Linked DNA regions of Homo sapiens: all the other regions are linked to region 2. The links come from fine-mapping of genetic effects on gene expression. A gene starts in region 2. Each other region holds a variant in brackets. All regions are shown on one strand. Distances are between the middles of the regions.

Region 1 (5,655 bases), 54 kb after region 2:
GTCCTTTTTCTGTCTGGCTTATTTCACTTAGCATAACGTCTTCAAGGTCCTTTCATGTTGTAGCATGAATCAGAATGAAATACTACTTTTTAAGTTGTAATTTCAGGTTCTAGTCCAACTGTTTATGATCATGTCAGGACATTTCACACATCTTGTCTTGAAACCATTTTCCCATCACTCTGTCCTTGTTGTCTCCTAAGCATTCCTCAGGACTCAGCTTAGCAGTCATTTCTTTAAAGAGACCTTCCTGGAACCAACAAGTTAAGTTGAGTCATACTGTTGTGCTTTCCCATTGTATAATTCTTATTCAAAACTTTCATTTATGTACGCAATTATTTTTTCCCCTTCTTTCCCAGAGTCTGCTATTTAAGTCCAGGTATTCCACTTGCTATTATATTTCTAATAGCTAGTAAAATGTCCGGAACTTAGTGGGTTTGAAGAATGATTGTTACTTTATGCCACTGGCTCTTTTCACTTTTTTATTGACTGTTTCATAGCAGAACAATATATCTAAAAATATTGAGTACAGTCAGAACACTTAGGTTCCTTAATTCTCAGCTCTGATATCAGCTTACTATGCAACCTTAGGAAATTATTTAAATGCTCTAGTATCAGTGTCCTCCTGTGCAAAACGAACAAACTGAGTGCTTTTCAAGGCCCCTTTAAGAGAAAAGTAGGTTTACATTTTGTAAATTATTTGTAACAGAAAAATCTCATATATATTAGTCTTATTGTCATTGCACATATGGTAACCTTTAAGATCATTTTTCAGTAATTATTTCTGTCTGATGAAAGTGAGCTAATTACATAAATATAATAAAAATACCAATGTTTAAAATCTATATTTGACTAACCATTGATTCATCTCTACCTTTTTTTTGTGCGATAGTCTGATTCCGTATAAGTTGATGCATGATTGGAAGGAACTATTTTTTAATGCAAAACCCATATATGAACAAGCCTCTGTTAAGACACTACCTGCTAACCCCTCAAGAGAACAACTTACAGAACTGGAGAAAAGGGACTTGCTAGATACCAATGATTATGAAGAATATAAGGTACCTACTGATATGAAATAATTAGAATGCTACATAATAAATCCTTTTTCTTTAACATTAATTTTGTGATATTCCTTATTTCATTTCTACTAATAAAAATAGACATGTTTTGTTTGCATTTTCCCTTGTTTTAATTTGTATGTTTGTACTACTTTTTAGATGCTTAAACTATACATAAGCTATTATCTATTGTTCCTAGTAATCTTAGGGGAGTGGTCTGAAAAAACATCAAGCATAGTAATTGTCTGGGTAGACAGATTTCAGAATTTTTAAAATGCTTTAATTTATTTATTAGCATTTTTCTTTGTATGGGCTGTGTACTTTTGCTTCAAAAACCATTGTTAAAAAGTATTTCTTTTGTAATCAATCTAAATAATAGACTTTTTTTACAGGCAAAATGAAAGAGGAGGAAGTCTGGGTTTTATGAATAGCATAGATTCAAACAATCTTTTATTCAAAGATTGAAATAAAAAGTATCGGGTGCCAACTGTGATTTTTAGAAGAACTGTTGTAAAGCCTTTGAGATTAGACAGACTAGAGCTACATTACTGAAATTGCCAACTACTAACTGTGTGACCTTAGGTGACCAGTTCATTAAGGGCTAATAGATTTCCATTTTTCAATTAATGGAAAGGGAATGCTACTATACCTACTTCATTTAAAATAACATGAGTTAAACACTTAGCTGAGTGCACTTCATGTTGGATGCATATAATACATATCCATTTCTTTCCTCACCATCCTACTCTCCCCATCCCACTCCATCTCACCCTTAGAAGTAAAGGTGTAACAATCATAGCTTTTGGATAGAAATTTTGAGTGGATCAACAGCAATGGAATGAGGAGTGAGGCTTTTTATTAGAAAAATTACAAAATGAGTCCCGGAAGGTCAGTAAGTGCAACATGAAAAAAATCTATGAAAAGATTATTTGACCTAATTATTCACTGATAGTACATACTCAACAAAGGTTTGTGGGACAAAGGGTGAATAAAATGAATGAATTACAATGAACAAAGAAAAGTGCAAAATAACACTAACAAGTAAATATTACAAGAAGATAACCTTGTGGTTAAAAGATAAGGAAAAATATGAGATTATGAGAAATTAAATGTATACTATATTTTAATTAAATGAATCTGTATTTGTAGCACTAAGAGAATTATTATTAAGGATTGACTAGAACCTTAAAAGATATATGTGGATGTTTGTTTTGTACGGTTGTAAAATATACTAGACCTATTACATCCACCTAAAGTATAATGCCATGTAAGAAAATGCTTTGACAGTATCAACCTGTGTTAAGGTATTTCTTTCCATTGTAAATTAAAAGTCATTTTATTTGACAGACTTTACTGGTTCATCGAATGTTTATTTCTAAATTACTTGCTAAACAGCTCAATCTCTATTCTTGTTGCTCTTACAAATCAGGAGACCTAGTAGGCTGCAGCTTAGCAAAGATTTTTGTCTCTTTAGCTATTTTCCTTGTATGAGAAATGGTTACCACAGGAACATGCTTGTCTTACCCACATCCTGAAGCAGATGATGCATTTCTTTTGCAGAAAATTGTAAACTTTTGTTAGGAGTTTGTGAGCGTCTAGCAATGTACTTTATTTTGTGTATTGACTTTGCTGTTTTTCTAGAAATGAAAATTACCTTAGGATTTATAATATGTTTTCACAAGCTCCCTTCGACACCATAATGGAAAATATGCCATATACAGGTTTTAGGATATACTGTAAACTATTATACTATCATTCTTTATTTTTAGATCTTTGGTCTCTTCAAGAACTTGTCCTAAATGTTCCTACAT[A/C]CAAGTAAAAAATAAATGTTTCAACTTGTAAAATATATTATCTGGCTTAAATAGTCTATCACAAGAGGCAGCGGAACAATGCATCCTGGCTTATCTAAAAGAAACAGTTGTCCACGTTTGTCATTATTAAATTTGTTCAGGAGTTTTAATGCAAATATATTACTCAGAAATTAATACATTTGCTTGAACATAATGTTCATTATAATGTTATTGAACATAATGTTCATTATAATGTTATTGAACATTATATATAATTCATTATAATGTTATTGAACATAATGTTCATTATAATGTTATTGAACATTATATATAATGAACATTATTATGTTCAAGCAAATGTATTAATTTCTAAGTAATACATTTGCATTAAAACTCCTGAACAAATTTAATAATGACAAATGTGGACAACTGTTTCTTTTAGATAAGCCAGGATGCATTGTTCCGCTGCCTGTTGTGATAGACTATTTAAGCCAGATAATATATTTTACAAGTTGAAACATTTATTTTTTGCTTGTATGTGGGAACATTTAGGACAATTTCTTGAAGAGACCAAAGATCTAAAAATAAAGAATGATAGTATAATAGTATAATACATTTGCTTGAACAAATAGTGTAATACATTTGCTTGAACATAATAATGTTCATTATATATAATGTTCAATAACATTATAATGAACATTATGTTCAAGCAAATGTATTATTCAGAAATTAATCTTCAAAAAGTTTATATTCTTAGCATACTTAATTGATGTCCATACCCTATACCTTTAAAGAACTGACAGTTCCCAGTTTTGAGTTTGTGCTTTTAGAAGCCCGTGTTCTGTTCAAATAAGCTATTATGCTTAAAATTTTTAAATATTGTACCTAGAAATTGCAATTAAAACAGATATTTGCTTATGTACATGTCATATGTAGCTGCCAAAAATTTGACTCATGTCTTAACTTTATTTCCTAAATCATCACACTCTATTTATGTGAGAATGACTGAATGTGAGGGAGCTCTACCCCAGTGGCTAGAAATAACATTTCTCTCTCCCAGGAAAGAGGCAAGAACAGCATCATGGAGCAGTCAGACCTCTCTGGGGTTCCTAGGCAACTACCACAGCATAACAACATTGAGTTATTTAGTAGAAAGTGAGGAAGGGCCCTTAAAGCCCAATGGACCATGGGTAGCAGTCTAAGCCAGGAGGCCTGGTTCCTGTAGTGCAGCTGGCAGCACAGCCCCACACAGCAGCTAGTGGTTCTCAATCATGCAGTGGACTCCTGCCAGTGAACCTCAAACTCCCCCTAATGCAAATCCTTTCTGTGGGTCTTACTAGCAAATGAGTTGCAATTCATAGCGTTTCACTTTTATATAAGCTGCTTACTAGCAATTACTAGTTGAATGAGTTTAAGAGTTACTAAAATTTAGTGTTCATAAACTAAAATTAGCTCATGGCTATGGTTTCCTGAAGATTTGGATTTTTCTAAGAAGTCCCTGCCACAAAGCACTCAACCATTTTCAGAGCTCTACTGTGCATGCCCATAACCAAGTTATACTTGGAATTTCTATAATTTGGGGGAAGGATATTTCATTTCCAGCACATCATCCATGTTGTCTTAAGTTGTTCATGATTTTTAATTGCTGCTATTTTTTGCCTTTAATGGCAAATTAGTGTTTAAGTTCATGATCAGGTGAGTTTGTTGTGGTTATTGGATTAACCCTACAGTGTGTGTTATAATGTACATTTTTATTAACATTATTTTTGGCTTATGATTTTCCGTCAACCAGACTTTAAGATGTGGTTGTATATGTTATGGTTTAACATGTGTACGCCTGTCACTACAGCACATGTATGGACACCTATCCCCCAGTTTTTTTACAATGACCTTTATTACCACCAGGTCTTTTTCCACCAAAGAATAGAAATATGGGACTAAATGAGCCATGGAGTTCTCTGTTTTCCTGTCTCATCTGAATTGTGTGGCCCAAAGACATCCCTGGATAATTGACACAAGCACAGTGATAGATTTTAGTAGATGAATGTTAAGGGCATGTGAATCGATCACTTTTTTACATTTAAAACATATACATTGCATTGATCAGCTCAGGCTGCTATAATAATACACTATAGACTGGGTGGCTTAAACAACAGCAATTTATTTTTCATAGTTCTGGAGACTGAGAAGCCCAAGGTTAAGGTGTTAGCCAGTTTGACTCCCCAGTGAGATCTTTCTTCCTGGCTCACAGAAGACTGCCTTCCTGCTGTGTTCTCACAGGGCAGAGAGAAACAGAGTGAGCTCTTCTCTTTTCGTCTTCTTTTTTTTTTTTTTTTTTTTGGTGTTTCCAAATTCTTTTTATTATTATTATTATTATATTTTAAGTTTTAGGGTGCATGTGCACAATGTGCATGTTAGTTACATATGTATACATGTGCCATGTTGGTGTGCTGTACCCATTAACTCGTCATTTAACATTAGGTATATCTCCTAATGCTCTCCCTCCCCCCTCCCCCGACCCCAAAACAGGCCCTCGTGTGTGATGTTCCCCTTCCTTTGTCCATGTGTTCTCATTGTTCAATTCCCACCTATGAGTGAGAACATGTGGTGTTTGGTTTTTTATCCTTGCGATAGTTTGCTGAGAATGATGGTTTACGAAAACTAATCTCATCATGGGAGCCCCTCCCTCATGACCTCATCTAAACCTGATTACATTCCAAAGGCCTAGCCTCCAAGTACCATCACATTGGAGGTTAGGGCTTCAACATATGAATCTGGGGGAGACACAAACATTCAGCCCATAATAT
Region 2 (5,655 bases):
AATGAACATACAAAAATCAGTCGCATTTCTGTACACTAATACTGAAATAGCTGAAAAATAAATCAAGGCCAGGTGCAGTGGCTCAAACCTGTAGTCCCAAGTCTTTAGGAGGCCAAGGCAGAGGATTGCTTGAGCCCAGGAGTTCAAGACTAGCCTGTGCAACATAGAGAAAACTCATCTCTACCAATGAATGAATAAACAAATAAATAAATAAAGCAATTTCATTTCCAATTGGTACAATAAAAATATACACCTAGGAATACATTTAACCAAGACAGTGAAAGACCCTACAAGAAAAATTATAAAACACTGATGACAGAAATTGAAGAGGACACAAACAAATAGAAAGACACCCCATGTTCATGAATTGGAAGAATGAATATCATTAAAATGATCATATTGCCTAAGACAATCTATAGATTCGATTCAATTCCTATAAAAATACCAAGATCATTTTCACAGAAATAGAAAAAACAATCCTAAAATTCATATGGAACCAATAAAGAGTCCATATAGCCAAAGCAATCCTAAGCATAAAGAACAAGGCTGGAAACAGCACAGTATCTGACTTTAAAGTATATTACAAGGCTATAGTAATTAATACAGCATAAGCTGGAAACAGCACAATATCTGACTTCAAATTATATTACAAGGTTATAGTAATCAAAACTTCTTGGTAGTGGTATAAAAATAGACTCATAGACCAATGTAACAGAACAGAGAACCCAGAAATAAATCCACATATTTATAGCCAACTGATTTTCAACAGAGGCACCAAGAACTATGTTGAAAGAACCCTCTCTTCAATAAATGGTGCTGGATAAGTTGGCTATCCATATGCAGAAGAGTAGAGCTGAACAGTATTTCTCACCACATACACAAATATCAACTCAAGATGGATTAAAGACTTAAATGTTAGACCTAAACCTATAAAACTACTAGAAGAAAACATAGGGAAAACACTTCAGGACATTGGCCTAGGCAAAAATGTTATGAATAAGACCTCAAAAGCACAGACAACTAAAACAAAAATAGACAACTGGGGGCTATATTAAACTAAAAAGCTTCTGTACAATACATGAAACAATCAACGGAGTGAAGAGACAACCCATTGAATGGAAGAAAATATTTGCAAACTATTAATCTGACAAGGGACTCATATCCACAACATACAAGAAACTCAAACAACTCAACACTAAAAAAACAAACAATCCCACTAAAAAGTGTGCAAAGGACACGGATAGACATTTCTCAAAAGAAGAGGTACAAATGGCCAACAGGTATATGAAAAAATTCATCATCTCTAATTATCAAATGCATATCAAAACCACAATAAAATACCATCTTACCCCAGTTAGAATGGTTATTATTAAAAAGACAAAAAACAACAGATGCTGGAGAAGATGTGGAGAAAAGGGAACTCATACTGTTGGTGGGGATGTAAATTAGTATGACCACTATGGAAGGCAGTATGGAGGTTTCTCAAAAAACTAAAAACAGAACTGCCATAAAATCCAGCAGTTCCACTACAGTGTATCTATCCAAAGGAAAAGAAGTCAGTATATCAAAGGGATACCTGCACTCACATGTTTATCACAGAACTATTCAAAATAGCCAAGATATGGAATAAATCTAAGTGTCCATCAGCGAACAAATGGAAAAAGAAAGAATGGTATATATACATAACGGAATACCATTTGTCCATGGAAAAGAATGAAAACAGGTCATTTGCAGCAACATGGATGAACTGGAGGCCATTATGTTCAATGAAATAGGCCAGGCAACAGAAAGACAAATACTGCATGTTTTACTCATATGTGGTAGCTAAAAAAGTTGATCCCCTGGAGATAGAGAACAAAATTATGAGTACCAGAGACTGGAAAGGATGTGAGGGTGGGAAGGGGAAATGAAGAGAGGTTGGTGAATGGGTACAAACTTATAGTTAGATGGAAGAAATAGGGTCTAATGTTAGCTAGCAACTGGGGTGACTATAGTTAGCAATGATACATTGTATATTTCAAAATAGCTAGAAGAGAAGATTTGAAATGTTACCAACGTATATAAATGATAAATACTCAAGGTGATGGATACCCCAAATACCCTTCTTCTTTTTCTTCCTCTTCTTTTTTCTTCTTCTTCCTCTTCTTTGATCTCTCCTTGTTCTCCTCCTTCTCCTTGTTCTCCTTCTTCTCCTTCTCTTTCTTCTTTTCCTCCTGTTCTTCCTCTTCTCCTCCTCCTCTTCCTCTCCCTCTCCTTCTCCTTCTTGTTATTCTTTCTTCTTTCTTCTTCTTTTTTGAGACAGAGTCTCATTTTGTTGCCCAGGCTGGAGTGCAGTGGCTCGATCTCGGTTCACTGTAAACTCCGCCTCCTGGGTTGATCCTTCCACGTCAGCATCCTGAGCTGGTGGGACCACAGGCGCACGCCACCACGGCCGCCTAATTTCTTACAGAAAAAAAAACGGTTTCTGCTACCTTGCCCAGGCTGGTCTTGAACTCCCAGGCTCAGTCGAGCGCCACCCCCTCCACAAAGTGGTAGGATTATTTGCGTGAGCCACGGAGCCCTGCGGAGACTCTGGTTTTACTTTCTGCTCACCTAAGAAGCTCCTGCTGTGTCCCTAAGTGTTCCCGCCTCGCCTCTCCCCACACCCACTGCTCCCTAACTTCTCTCACAGGCCCCCAACGGCTTCCTCCTGCGCTGGCGCACGCTCAGGTCTTACCCGCCAGCAGGTGGCGAAACACGATTTTCTGTCCTCTGCGGCTGAGCCCTAGCGTCCCCTCTTCTCTAAGGCCTTTCGCCTAGTTCCAGCCTGGATACGCTTCCATAGCAAAGGGTTGCCCTTGGCTACAGGAGGACGCGGGCTGGCAGGCTTGGTTCCTGGCGAGTTTCTAAGCCCCCGCCTGCGGTCTGAGGCACCGGCTGAACCATGTCGGAGATCCTGTGCCAGTGGCTCAACAAGGAGTTGAAGGTGTCCCGGACCGTGAGTGAGTGACCACGGCCAGGGGCGAGCGTCTGAGGGGCTAGCGGGGCGCAGAGCCTGCAGCGCAGCGCAGCGCACTCAGGGAAGGTGGCGGGCAGGGCGCGAGCTGCACAGGTGGGGCACCTGCGTAGCCGGCAGCATCCCACAGTGAGCAACTCGGCTCGGCGGTGCCCCAGGTCCGTCCCGCCACCTCCCTACAGCTCACCCCAGCCAGGGCAAGGCCTTGTCACGTCCCCACTCTGCCGCTCTCGAGTTACCCTTGTCACGGTGGGCCCAACCCGCAGGCATTCTGACTTTGTGATGTGGTTCTAGGCAATCAGAGGGTTTAGGAAGGTCTCCTTTGCTTCTGTGGAGAGGGAACTTTGCTGGACTTTGTAGTCTGACCCCAACGATGCCTCCTTCACATCACCAGAAGCAGAAGCATGGTGTGGTGGCTAGTCGATGAAATATGAAGCCACTGGACAAGTTACAATACCTTCTCTGAATGTGTTTCCTTCTCTATAAAATGGACCTAATAATGCTTTCCATACTTAACTGACCAGCAGGGGAGGGTGGGTGAAAAATAAGTTAATGTAGAATATGTTAACATTTACAAATTTTAGTAAATTTTAAGCCCCAAATCACAAACTAGCTATTTCTGGTCACTATTGGCTCTTGCCCAAAGCTGACCTTATTCACCAACCTAATTTTATCCTAACCATGCAGTTGCCACCCAAAGTTTCCAAGTCTGACAACCACAGAGACAATTTTACATGCTGGCAGCTTCCTTGACTGCCCTGTAATTCTTCAGGAGTTCATTTTTCAGTTGGTTTTGTTTGTCTTTTTTTCTTTTTTTGCTTAAGGGAAGAGGTTTTCAGGGCAAGTCATTTCAGTCCATTTTCCCAGAAGAACTTGCTTAACACCAGCTTGCTACCAGAGAGGCAGTGGTGCCAGTTCAACCTTAGCTTATCTACAGAAGTTGCTAGATCGGTAGTGTTTCTGTGGGTGCAAAGTAGTTATTAATACTCTCAGCATGAGGATCTTTAGCACGGAGCATCTCCTGTTGCATTTCTTGAGGCATAAACCTCAGACTCTTTCTTTGTCAAATAACCATCTACACACTCCCTGTGAACTGCAATAAATTCTTTCCTGGTATTCTACGATTATCCCATTGTGTCTCCAACTGTTTATTTGCTAAAATATGATGGACTGAGGACAATATTTAGCATTTATTGTTTCTTATTCCTGTCTCACCATAGGAGCCAAAATAAAATATCATGCCCTTAAGTTGTACTCTTCTAAAAGAAAAGCAGTTACATATTGCTTAGTTTAATTTAGTTCATTTATTTTATTAGTAAAAACCACACCCGGGCCGGGTGCGGTGGCTCACGCCTGTAATGCCAGCCCTTTGGGAGGCCGAGGTGGGCAGATCATGAGGTCAGGAGTTCGAGACCAGCCTGGCCAACATAGTGAAATCCTGTCTCTACTAAAAATACATTAGCCGGACGTCGTGGCGGGTGCCTGTAGTCCCAGCTACTTGGGAGGCTGAGGCAGGAGAATCGCTTGAACCCAGGAGGCAGAGATTGCAGTGAGCCGAGATCGCGCCACTGCACTCCAGTCTGGGCAACACAGAAAGACTCTGTCTCAAAAAACAAACAAAAAACAAAACAAACAAACAAACAAAAAACACCCTTTGCTGAAGTCCCCAGGACTCTATTGCAACATTTTGAAATACTTTTAGGAGAAATAAATGAAATTAATAAAGATACATAAAATAAAAACAGTAGATGCCATTATAATTTTAATTAGTTTTGGGAATTTAGGTTTTGAGAGGTGGAGGATAAACATAAAAGGGCTGAAGACTAAGTAAGAATTTTAACAACATTTAGGCTATGGATAGAAAATTCCTGGCGTCTGTGCTCCTGAAGTGTAGATCTGGAAGCTAGCAGAGATGCCCCGTTCTAATGGAGTATTCTGCTTTCCATTCACTAGCAAAACGTATTAATTTTTTAATCTCAACTACTATAAGAGAGATAGAGCGAGAGAGTCCTTGAGGAGGTAACCAGATTCCACATTGTAAAAGGTCTTTGGGAACACACTTAACTGTGTTTGTAAGCCAACAAGCTAGGATTTGTGCACTCAAGGAAGCACATTTCCTGCTGCTGCTGCCCCATCATTAGATAAACTGTTGTGTGGTGCACAATGGAAGGCTTTGGATGGTTTGTAGAATCTATCATGGAAGGACTGTGAGTGGGTGCAACCTCTGGGGAAAGTAATCAGGCAATTTCTGGGTAAGGGAAGTGTAAAAAGCAAGAACTTGGAGGTTAGACTGCTTGGAAATCTTTTGGACAAGTTATTTACCTAAATTTCATCATACTTAAAAACAGCAATAATAATGATACCTCATCTGGTTGTATCAAGATTAAATGGGATATTAAATGTAAAGCATTTAAAATAGCACTTTGGACATAAATGCTAAATCCTACTTCTCAGCATCTATCAAATAAAAATAAAAGCACCAATATATAAGGATATTTGAACAAAGACGTTTATTGCTACATGAATTACAGGGGCAAAAATAAAAATTGGAAACAATCTGAGTATCCTTCAAAAGTGTAATGCTTGGATACATGGTGCTTTATTCATACTATGAATTGTTATGCAGTTATTACAAAGAATTAGTTAGCTGCTATAACTTT
Region 3 (5,655 bases), 91 kb after region 2:
GGAGCAATGGTTTTCAGAGCCAGAAAATATTTTGATAAAAATCAATGCTGAAATAGATAAGGAATCTTTATGTGAAAAAGTAAAAGAAATTCTTACGACTGAAATAGCAAAAAAAAAGAATAAAGGTATTTACATTTGTTTATAGTTTTGAGTTTAGGCAACTAAAATGTGTGGTTTTTAATGAGTTTGGTAGGAAATGAAGATGTGATTGAAAAGTTCTTTCTTATCTTTGGATTTATACTATCGACAAATATATTCTGCCTCTGGCTTTAGCTTTCTGTTGTATATGTTTCCGAATAAAAGATTTTTTCTCTCTCTTATTTTAATCAAAAAGAGACCATCTCTCTGAAAGCATTGTTTTCACATAAAAAAAAAACAAGAAAAAAACCCAGCAGAGTTAAATTTAAATGTTAATTCACATTTTATTCTCTGGATATTTGTAATCTTTATTTGTTAATTAGATATTTTTAAGTAAAAAATAATGAACATTAGAGATATTGTAGATAAAGGTAAAGGTTTTACTTTGTTAGCTTTAGCATTATAAAGAAACCATGTGAATTCTTTTAGGATGGACACACTAGGCAATTTTTTCTCACATCCACCTATTTTGTTATAAGTTTATTTATTATTATTAAATTGATTATTAATTATATATTAACTTGCTTTCATGTTTTATCTTACCCACATAAAACTGCACAGATCGCCTTCCTATTTCATTCAACCAATGATAATTGCCCACTAACTTTTTATACTATTATTGAAGCTTTTTATTGAAAGAGATTTTAACTTCAGTCCAATATCATATTTCCATTGGGATTTTGCCTTGAGACAAGATTTGAAAAATAAATCTTTCTTTTTTGTTTATCAATTACCCCAAATTATATTGGCAACTACTGTTTCTTAGTATAATAAAAAATGGTCAAAGTTAATAGTGTCAAAAGGATTCTAAAGTTGCCTTGATAGCATACTGTCTCCTGTCGCTAAATTTGTGACCTAACTCCCATAATGTAACAGTTAACTAACATTAAAATTGCCCATAGACATAAACCACAATCACCATGGAAATCCAGGAGCTCATACTTAGAAAGACAAACTCCTACATCTAAATGCCTACTCCAAAAACTACCAGCATGAACCTTTCAAACAAAAAATAATCATATACTATTTTAAGAGGCTTAACATGTCATTTGACAGAATAGCAATCTTACAGAGTCTTGGTTGGGAAGCAAAAACAAACCAATTCTAACTCATGAAGGCTTGAAGCTACGGGTTAGAATCAGTTTGTTTTTGCCAACTATTAGACTCAACTTCAACATTTTCCTAAAGAGTTTGCATTCTAATATTCACTGACTACATTAATAGACTCAGTTATCACTTAAGATTTATATTTCAAACAGGTAATTAACAAATGTTTAATAATTAAAACAATAAACATTAACCTAGCCCAGTGCTCTGTATTAAACTTTCCGACTAAGTTAAAAAACTAAAAGAATGTGGTACTTCTATATTCTGACCACAATATACTGTTAAGTAGGGAAAAGCAGGTTACATATGAAATAGTCTCTTTTAAGGAAAGTGTACATAATTATGTATTAAATACATCTGCACAGAAGAGTCTGGCAGCATATATATACTTGATGATGGGGAAGGAGATAGGACTTAAAGAGACTTAACAGGCAATTCCCTTTTCTACTTGTCTTAATTCTTGGATGTTTAAAGCAATAATTATGAATAACTTTAAAAGTCAGAACTAAAACCCCTAATTTCCACTTCAAAAGAACATCTAATAGAATGAAGCCTCCTAGCTTGCTGAATTGAAAAGAGTAATCTAAGGGTGGAGTAAGCACATGTAAAGAGAAATAGTCATGCAAGAACATAGGCAATCGTCGCCAGTGGTACATTGAGTAGAGCTGTGGGCCTCTGCAGTGTGAAGGGATGGAAAGACTGGGCAGTCAGGGAGGGTGTGCCAGGAAAGGTGAAACTGCATCATGCAAGGCAAAGGGTCATCACAATGATGGGAGCCTAGAAAGACTCCAGTCAGGCATGCTCCATCCCTCCAGGCATCTGGGCTAACCATCTCCCCTGACTGGAACACTCTTTCACCAGAAATACACAAGGCTCACTCCCTGGCTTGCTTCATGTCTTTGCTCAGATGTCACCTTATGGTTGGGCATACTCACCCTGGCAGTCTATCTAAAACTTAAGAAGCTGCCCACAACACTTTGATCTCCCTTACTCTGTTCTATTTTTTTTCCATAGCACTTATCACCATCTTAACTCTTGTATAAATTAACTTATTCATCATATTTATGGTTTGTTTCCTACCACTAGAACG[T/G]AAGCTTCATAAGGCCATTGATTTTTCTGTTTTGTTTTACTGTTGTATCTCCAGCAATCAGAACTATTGTTTGCAATATTATTATAATTATTATCATTAGAAATAGTAGTAGTTTTACTTTATTCTTGTCATCCTTCCTTTTCTTCAAGGCATAATTCAGGTTCAATAAATGGTTGTTGCAGGAATGAATGAATTGCTAAGGCTTAATTGAAGATGTATGTACTGTGCAGTATTCTAAGTGCTTTGTATTCACTTTTTAAAGTTAGTGATACACATTTCTTTCCCCTTCCATTTCCTCCTCACCCCACCTCTTGTATTACATTGCCCTTTACCGTCTTTTTACACTTGTTCACTTTGCTTTCCCACTGGACGTTTTCAAACAATCTTTTATTTTTCTCCTCATCTTTATTAGCTACTTCTAGATTATCACTTTTACATTTGACACCACTTGCTAACCCCTTATACCTGCTCCGTACACACAAATACACATATATTCCTCATCACCCCCATGCCAACCACCACCATCACCACTCCTACCATCACCACTACCACACCACCACCATCACTACCACCATCCCCACCACAGACTTCACCACCTCTACCTCCACCACCATCACCTCTACCAGCACCTCCACCACCACTACCACCAGCACCATCACCACCTCTACCTCCATCACCATCACCACCACTACCCATCAACATTACCACCACTGCCATCAAAAGGCAAGGGCAACCATATTTCTGACAAGGGAGAGAAGACTTGAAATCTTAGCTTTAAGGACTAGATGATTTAAGGGAAAGCCCTAAAGCATGAATTAGCTTTAAATACGTAAGATTGTTTTATATTAATTTAGATTTCTCTTAGTTCAAGTGAAATAGTAGATTTCTAGAGTCTCTAATGAAGGTCAATTCTTATCATCCTTTTGAAGTTGAGAAGAAATTAGAAGAAAAGGAAGCTGAGAAAAAAGCAGCAGCTTCCCTGGCTGAGCTTCCACTTCCTACACCTCCTCCTGCTCCTCCTCCTGAACCAGAAAAAGAGAAGGAAATTCATCAAAGCCATGTGGCTTCAAAAACTCCTACTGCAAAAGGAAAACCTCAATCAGGTGATTGACAGAATGATTTATAATCCTGTTTTCAGTTTCTTATTTTTACTCAGTAAAGAATTATAAATTATAGTCTATCTACATTCAGACTTTGGGCAACTTCAATCATATGAAACAAGGCTTTACACTCAGATGGAAGTGGAAAAGCCCTCGGAGTAGCTAAAAGCGTAGTTGTTACAAAGCCCAACTTCTTTGCCATGTAGGAGGAGACATGGAGTCATCACACCTAGGTCTACTGATTAGAGTAAGACCACAGACGAGAAGAGGAAAAGGCACAGAGTAACAGGTAACTTCAGGCAGATCAAGAGGATACACGTCTGTGTGCTGAACTATAGAGTTACATTTATGTAATGAGTAAGAACATCTTAATAAAATAAGAATGAGTATAGCTGGTTTTCCACCAGAATAAGGGAACAAATTAACAGCAACCATTAGAACTAGAATTTATATGTAATTGTAAATCTTCAGGACTATGTGATTATAAAAGTATAGAAACAAGCTCCTGCCATCTCAGTAAACATATATTTATGGACACAGAGATAAAGAGCCTAGATAGAGAACACTTTTAGTTTAAGTTTGTTCTAGATCCTTAACCGCTATGGACCATAAGTCTAGCATTAAGTGGCAGACAATGAATATAATGACAAAAGTGAAGTGCTTAATTGTTGTAATGCATGATATTGGTAGAGTGTCAGTATCCATTTGTGTGTGTATATAAAACAAATGAGGCTCTGGTTTCTAGTTTCAGCTTTATAAATGGCTGACTGTGCAGTTACACCATGTCTACCTAAGTATCTTTGATACTGTGTCATGACCACATTTCTAAACTCTATAGTCTTTCTGCCTCACGGAGATTTGAGATAGGTCTTAATTTTTAAAATTAAACTTATTCATATTAAACAAAGACATATGAAGACTTTAGTAAGATATATTATGATATATTAAAGACCATTCTGCTCCAGGAAATTAGAAATTAACTACAGGCAAAATACACACATCCTAAAAAATGTTTTTATCATGTCAACAATAAAACACAAAGACATGAATTAAACATACACCCTTTTCCCGCTGTCTCATTAGGAAATTAAAAAACAATTCAGAGGTCTGGAGGAAAATGGAAATATTTAAAATGCTTTTTAGAACTGGGGAAGACAGGCCAAGCATGGTGGCTCATCCCTGTAATCCCAGCACTTTGGGAGGCTGAGGTGGGCAGATCACCAGAAATCAGGAGTTCGAGACCCCGCTGGCCAACAGGGCAAAACCCATCTCTACCAAAAATACAAAAATTAGCTGGGCGTGGTGGCAGGCACCTGTAATCCCAGCTGCTTGGGAGGCTGAGGCAGGAGAATTGCTTGAACCTGAGAGGCGGAGGTTGCAGTGAGCCGAGATTGCCCCACTGCACTCTAGCCTGGGGGATAGAGTGAAACTCTACCTCCAAAAAAAAGAAAAGAAAAATAACTGAGGAAGACAGTTTTCACAGTGGGTCAGGTGAGCCTAGAATTATCGAATATCGTCCTTTAACCTATAGCTATGACTCTAGGTTAAAGCTCCTCCTCAGCTTGCTCCAGTCAAGAGTATCTATGTATTTGAGCCATTTCCTGAAACCAGACTCTAGTGTTTCTGATCAGACCAGCTCAGTCTTTAAGTTTCTGAAGTTTGTTTGCTATTTTATAATTATATTCTTGAATACTGTGCATTGAAGAAATAATAAATCTATTGTTGCTTTAAAGAGTGGTTGTACTTGTCTTTTTTTCCCCACCAAGGTCAAGGCTAGTGCCTGATATTTAAGAATGTTTAGAAAGGTTAATCTCGAGAGTCTTAATTGCTGCCACCCAACCTTACTGTGATGGACATTGATAGGGCAGGAGAGCAGACAGCACTGCCCCTGCAGCTCAGGGAAGCTTGGTTAGGCAATTTGAGAGAGGAACATTTATCACAGGTTTTTAAAATGTTTTGTGTAAATAATTTACAAATTTTCCAAAATGGAACATTTTTAGAACTGAAAGCCTGAGGCTTCTGAACATGCCCTACTCAAACATCTAATTACAATCTTCAGCAGAAGTTGAGATGAAAAGAGGAATTATTCACTAAAAAACCAAATGAAATTTTAAAAAAGGGCTAGAGTAGGCATAGTACATTGAATCCTATTTTGTTATTTTGTTAAAAAATTTTGTTATTTTGTTAAAATTTTGTTAAAAAATTGTTATTTTGTTATTT
Region 4 (5,655 bases), 26 kb after region 2:
TTGAAGTTTGATTGATGCCGCATAATACACTAAATATATCTTGCTAAATATTTATGTTAAAAGAGTTACTAGTACACAGAGGAAACAGGACAGTAAGTTACACCACATGATCAGAACATGAATTCAAGATATTGCATCACTATTTTTGTTGACATTGGCCATCTCATGGTGCTGGCTCCTCATTTATATTTAGAAATCACTCTTATATTTCCTGAGCGCCACATCTTTTTGGAAGATGGGTGCTTTTAGGTTAGACTGTAAGAGGCTCAAAAACATGCTATATGATGTTATACACGCTTTGTCTGTATGTATAAATGTATGTTTCCTTTTCTGTAAAAAAGTTCCATAGCTGTCAGATTTTCAAAGGTATCTGTGATTCAAAAACAAAAGATTTAGAGCCACTACCTGAATGCAATCTCTTGAGAAATAGTATACTAGGAACAGTATATCAAGTTTAGGTGTTGTGACTTCTGTATTTACTTCTGAAGAAATCCTATTGTCAATTTAGAGCAGAAAAATTTTAGTGTAGCCATTTAAAAGAAATGAATGCATAGAGTTCAGGTAGACATGGTCAATAAAAAAATCTCAATGTAGTTACATTAGAGTGGTTTTAGAGAGGAATGATACAGCTAAAAGGACATGAAATAATTCAAAATATTGGATAATGATAATATGTCTGATATTTGTTGTTTGTCTTTAATTTAATGCTAATGTCTAATTATGTAAAATATTTTACTGTCCAGGGTTTCAAGTGCCAAACTTAATAATTTTTCTCGCTTGGAGCCAACACTTAACCTTCTGGGTGTGCAGTTTGATCAGAATGTGGCCCATGGCATCATCACAGAAAAGCCTGGGGTGGCAACAAAGCTGTTATATCAATTGTACATTGCTCTTCAGAAAAAGAAGAAAAGTGGACTGACTGGAGTGGAGATGCAAACCATGCAACGTCTGACAAATTTAAGACTTCAAAACATGAAAAGTGATACTTTTCAAGAGGTAGGTACATAAAAAAGCATAATAAGCATGTCACAGTGTAAAATTTGATAAAGAGAAATGACAATGATATTGAATTCTCAAAGAAGCCTCATTAGGCATATATATCCTTTATGTATGTTACTGGCCATACTTGGGTTTTATTTTATATTAATAATTTGAATTTATTTAGCCATTTTTGATGTCTCTCTCTATCCTATCCATATTGCCAATAGCTTATCAAACTCTTTTCCTAGTTTCCAGTACTTTTTGTTGTTGTTGTTTTAGAGAGACAGGGCCTTGCTCTTTTGCCCATGCTGGTCTCAAACTCCTGAGCTCAAGCAGTCCTCTGCCTCAGCATCCCAAGTAGCTGGGACTACAGGCCTAATACTTTTTGTGCCTGCTCCTCTCTTCCTGTTTCTACCCCATCATATCTGCTCAGATCTTCTTATCAACTACTGCAGCAACCTGCTAAAATGTCTCTCAATCTTCTGGATAAGTCAATCAACTGCTAAATGAATCTTCCCTAAATTTTACTTTTATTGAGTTCTTCTGCTCAGAAACCTATTTTTACTTCTTTCTAGTCCTCAGCATGGTATTTCTTTCTTCTATGTTAATTGACAGTCTGTCCTTAAATATGACTGTCTATTCCTGCTCTTCCTTCCCTCAAACCCAAACTCACCCTTCTCATCTCTCCTCTTCCCCAAACTGTTCTTCATCTACCGTGCAGCCCAGTACACACGGGTAGTCCCAGTTCTTCCTTTGGAACTCTAGAGCATAAGTAATTCTCACTCTCTTGGTTTTACCGTCCTGATACTGATATTGTTGGCTAACTAGTCATTATTTATTTGTCATATGACCTTACCAGATTTTTAGTACATCAGATTTGATGAATATGTCTAGTACAATGCTTCAAATGTTGTAAGTACTCATTAAATGTGTTATTGACTAATTGATATGACTTTTTAGTTGACAATTCTCTCCAGTTTTTATGCAATTCCTTATGGTAAATGAAGTGCATTAACTTTTACAGGCCTCTGGAATAATCATGAGTGCTGCACTGATGCAAAATAGTAAATATCAATGGATAGAATTATATTTTTAAATTTAAATTTTGAAGCAGCAATGACGTAATAGATATGAGGGCTATCTCCATGTTTATATTTGTCCATTCTTCATGGATATCATTGTAAGTCTGGTAGCAGAATGGACTCAGCGCTCCTTGAGAGCTAGAAATTAGATTAGTCTTAATATGAATAATTTATTATTGCATTCGGCCTCCTTCACTTGCAAGCTGGTTAACATTGAGCCAGCCTCTAAACAACTCTCAGCTTCAATTTCCCCAACTGTAAAAACAGGGATGCTTATTTCTACCTGCCTCAGTGTTCAGAATTGGATGTTTTTGTAGCTTCAAGAAAAAGAGTGGACTAACTGGAGTGGAGTTTATATATAATAAAATGTAAAGCAGTCAACAGTGGCAAGTGCTATAAGAGCTGTGTAGATGAAGACAAACAAGTGCCTATTAGCTCATTTAATGTTGGTCATGGGTGAACTTCAAGCGTCAATAATTCATTCACTGAACAAATATTTATTGGGCTCCTACTTTTTGTCAAGCACTTGCACAACAAATACACAGGAAAAGCCCCAACCCTCTTAGAGCTTACATATTGGGGAGAGAAAAATGTTTCATTAGAGTGATATGGATTGCAGTGAGTTGAGAAGGACTTTGGAGATGAGGAAGAGGGTAACATAGATTATTCTTTCAAGAAATGTGGAGGTAAAGAAGAGAACAGTAGGAGAGAAAAGCTCAAGTGAAGTATGAGATTGCTTGTTTTATGGACCTAGAGACTGGGGCCACTTATCAGTTGAGAA[A/G]AAGAGTCAGTGGCAGGAGAGATGAAAATGGTACAAGGACAAGATGGAAAGAGGCCCTCTGGGGACGGAAAGAGGAATATGCAATCAATGGTTCATGTGGAAGAGGTGATATCATAGGAAAGAAGTAGAGATGCCATCTTCTTTGATACTGGATGAGAAGAGGTGCAGGTAATATTAATAATGGTTGAAATTTATTAAACAGCATGCCTAGTGATGTGCCAAGCCCTGTTTCAGGTGCTTTATGAATATTATCTCACTGGATCTTCACAACAGCCATAAAATATAGTTACTTTCATTATTCCCATTTTACAGATGATGAAACTAAGGCACGGATGGATTAGGTAACTCGCCCAATTTTAAGCAGCTAGTAAGTGGTAAAGCTGAAACACAAACCTAGGAAGTTTTAATGTTTCTTCACTTTTTACTAAGGAGTGGCTAAGCAATGGGAAGAATCTAGCTTCTTATATTATCTCTTATATGTTAAAGTTGGTTTAATGAAATTATTTTTGCAAAAAAAATAAATAAAATTTATTTCCAAGAATATAAATACCATTTATTGAAAATTTAACTCAGTGTAAAAAGTTTAACTATAAAAGTATATATGAGGCTATTTTGTAAGAAGAACCACAAAGGATAATGTTTTTATAATTGTGCTTACATCAATTAAGAATATGAGTAATTGGAATGGGGTTTGAATTTAGCTTAACTATCAACAATAGTAATTTAAAGAATTTCATTTTGAAGACAAATTTTATTTGTGCTTATAATGAAAATGTACTCTTTATTCTCTAATAAAATCTTTTGAAATGCTTTTTTCATTTAGAGACTTAGACACATGATACCACGTCAAACTGATTTCAATCTGATGCGGATTACATACAGGTTTCAAGAAAAATATAAACACGTGAAAGAAGATCTTGCCCATTTGCATTTTGAGAAACTTGAAAGATTTCAAAAACTCAAGGAAGAGCAAAGATGTTTTGATATTGAAAAGGTTCTATAGAACTATTTTTTCAGAAATTCATTAGTGCATAGTATACAGTTTGTGATTTATGCGTATAGTACACATTGCATAAGTAGTAGTGGAGCACAAGTTGCACTTCCCTGATGCATGACTTTGTCCTGCCCTACTCTCACCCTTTCTCTCTCTCCCCTGCTCCTTTTCTCCATCCTGACTCTTGCTGACTCTCACCTCTACTTGTGGCTGAGAACAAGAACTGCCATCTTCTGGAGTGGCAAGACAACTGCATTACCTTCACTGGTAGAAATCAATGTTTCAGCTGCTTTAGTGATGGAGGGTTGCTATTAGCTACCCCATTGGTCAAAGGCACATGACCATTGTCACCACTGAGGGAGATAGATCAGACAATGTCCTCTCGCTTTCTCCTCTTTTGCAACCTTCGGTCCTGCCCCATTTCTCTGTTCTTGGAGATGTGAGGTAATTCTTTGCTTGCTTACCTTTTCAATCACCTTGAACAACTCTCAACTTCTTTCTGGCCCTTGCTTCTTGCTTTGACTAACTCTCTGCTCCTTCTCAGATTTCTTTAAAACTCTTTAATGATCTTCTGTGCCTTTGTGGGTGAGAGAATAATGGTACATGAAATCATTAAAGATTTTTAAGAGTATTTCAGGTGACTGGGTATATGGAATGTGTAAACTACAGGCAAAAGAATTATGTAGTTCTTCCCATTGCACTGTAAAATCACTTTTTAAATTCATGGATTTATTTGCAATGATAAGAAATTATATTCTGAATGTAGTCAGCTCTTTGTAGGGAAGAATGGGAAGATGACAGACAAACTGGAAGATCACTTGGAAGCTGGTTAACATTGAGCCAGCCTCTAAATAACTCTCAGCTTCAATTTCCCCAACTGTAAAAACGGGGATGCTTACTTCTACCTGCCTCAGAGTTCAGAATTGAACGTTTTTGTAGCTTCAAGAAGAGTGGACTAACTGGAGTAGAGTTTATATATAATAAAATGTAAAGCAGTCATGTAATTATATGACTTGCCAGAGGGTAAATAAAGGATTATATTCCCCTTTGGTGTTACATGATAAAGAGAGAAAGCACTCTTAAAGTAGTGTTTAAGTTGAGACCAATTGCTGTGACTGTAATTTATGTGGAACCAGCCTGTCTATTAGTGCCAAGCCTAATGCAGACAGTCTCCAAGAATGTTGAGAAAAAGGAAATATGATACCATTAAATATTCTGAAATAAATTATGTTCAAAATGATCATAGGGAACAAATAAGGCAAAAGGAAGACTCTGTGTCTTCCTGGTCTTCTTAAGAAAAAAAGATAAACATATTGCAATTAAATAAATATTCATATTTTGGAAAATGAAGAAAATTGTCTATAATGTATGCCTTTTTAAGGGTAAATTGAAATTTTTTATCTTTGGACATGAGAGCTAATGATCATATTAGTTCTAATATAATGTATTAGTAGTAAAGTCATGATTAGTTTCACATATTACCTCTTAAATCATTTACTTTTAAAATACTTTATCTGATTTTTCAGTCACTTTTTCTTTTCAAATACATTCTCCTGCTTATAGTCTTCTTAAAATAACTACTGCCTACATACAGAAGAGATGATCCAATAATTGTATCACATAATTTATTGTTAATTCAATTTTGAGGTTGCCCCTGAACTCATTGTTTAAGTGTGACTGGGTTTTGGGGAAGTTTGTGATTTTTATTGGGTTTCGCAGGAGCCCTCCTAGAAACTATCTCCTAGATAGAATTTTCTCATTGAACCATCTTCAGAGATAGAATTTTTTTCTTCCCATCCTTGGTAAGGTCATGGCAG

What was found. PIP is the estimated chance that this variant, and not a neighbour inherited with it, causes the effect.
Region 1: its variant is fine-mapped to the expression of SPEF2 in whole blood (TOPMed, PIP above 0.99). The same link has a PIP of 0.9 or more in cerebellar hemisphere.
Region 3: its variant is fine-mapped to the expression of SPEF2 in whole blood (INTERVAL, PIP above 0.99). The same link has a PIP of 0.9 or more in atrial appendage, esophagus muscle and fibroblasts.
Region 4: its variant is fine-mapped to the expression of SPEF2 in monocytes (TOPMed, PIP 0.91).

What each region holds. Positions count from the first base shown.
Region 1 is chr5:35,669,170-35,674,824 of GRCh38, forward strand. SPEF2 (sperm flagellar 2) reads left to right here. Exons shown (of 37, transcript NM_024867.4): 10 at 890-1,058. Among named protein-coding and RNA genes, the nearest start is that of SPEF2, 54 kb to the left of the region's middle. The variant A/C (reference allele first, on the strand shown) is at 2,870.
Region 2 is chr5:35,615,075-35,620,729 of GRCh38, forward strand. SPEF2 (sperm flagellar 2) reads left to right here and starts at 2,789. Exons shown (of 37, transcript NM_024867.4): 1 at 2,789-2,981. The coding sequence starts at 2,924. RefSeq lists an enhancer at 2,832-3,639.
Region 3 is chr5:35,705,684-35,711,338 of GRCh38, forward strand. It overlaps SPEF2 (sperm flagellar 2), which reads left to right. Exons shown (of 37, transcript NM_024867.4): 18 at 1-125; 19 at 3,265-3,438. Among named protein-coding and RNA genes, the nearest start is that of SPEF2, 91 kb to the left of the region's middle. The variant T/G (reference allele first, on the strand shown) is at 2,336.
Region 4 is chr5:35,640,688-35,646,342 of GRCh38, forward strand. It overlaps SPEF2 (sperm flagellar 2), which reads left to right. Exons shown (of 37, transcript NM_024867.4): 3 at 744-996; 4 at 3,668-3,838. Among named protein-coding and RNA genes, the nearest start is that of SPEF2, 26 kb to the left of the region's middle. The variant A/G (reference allele first, on the strand shown) is at 2,845.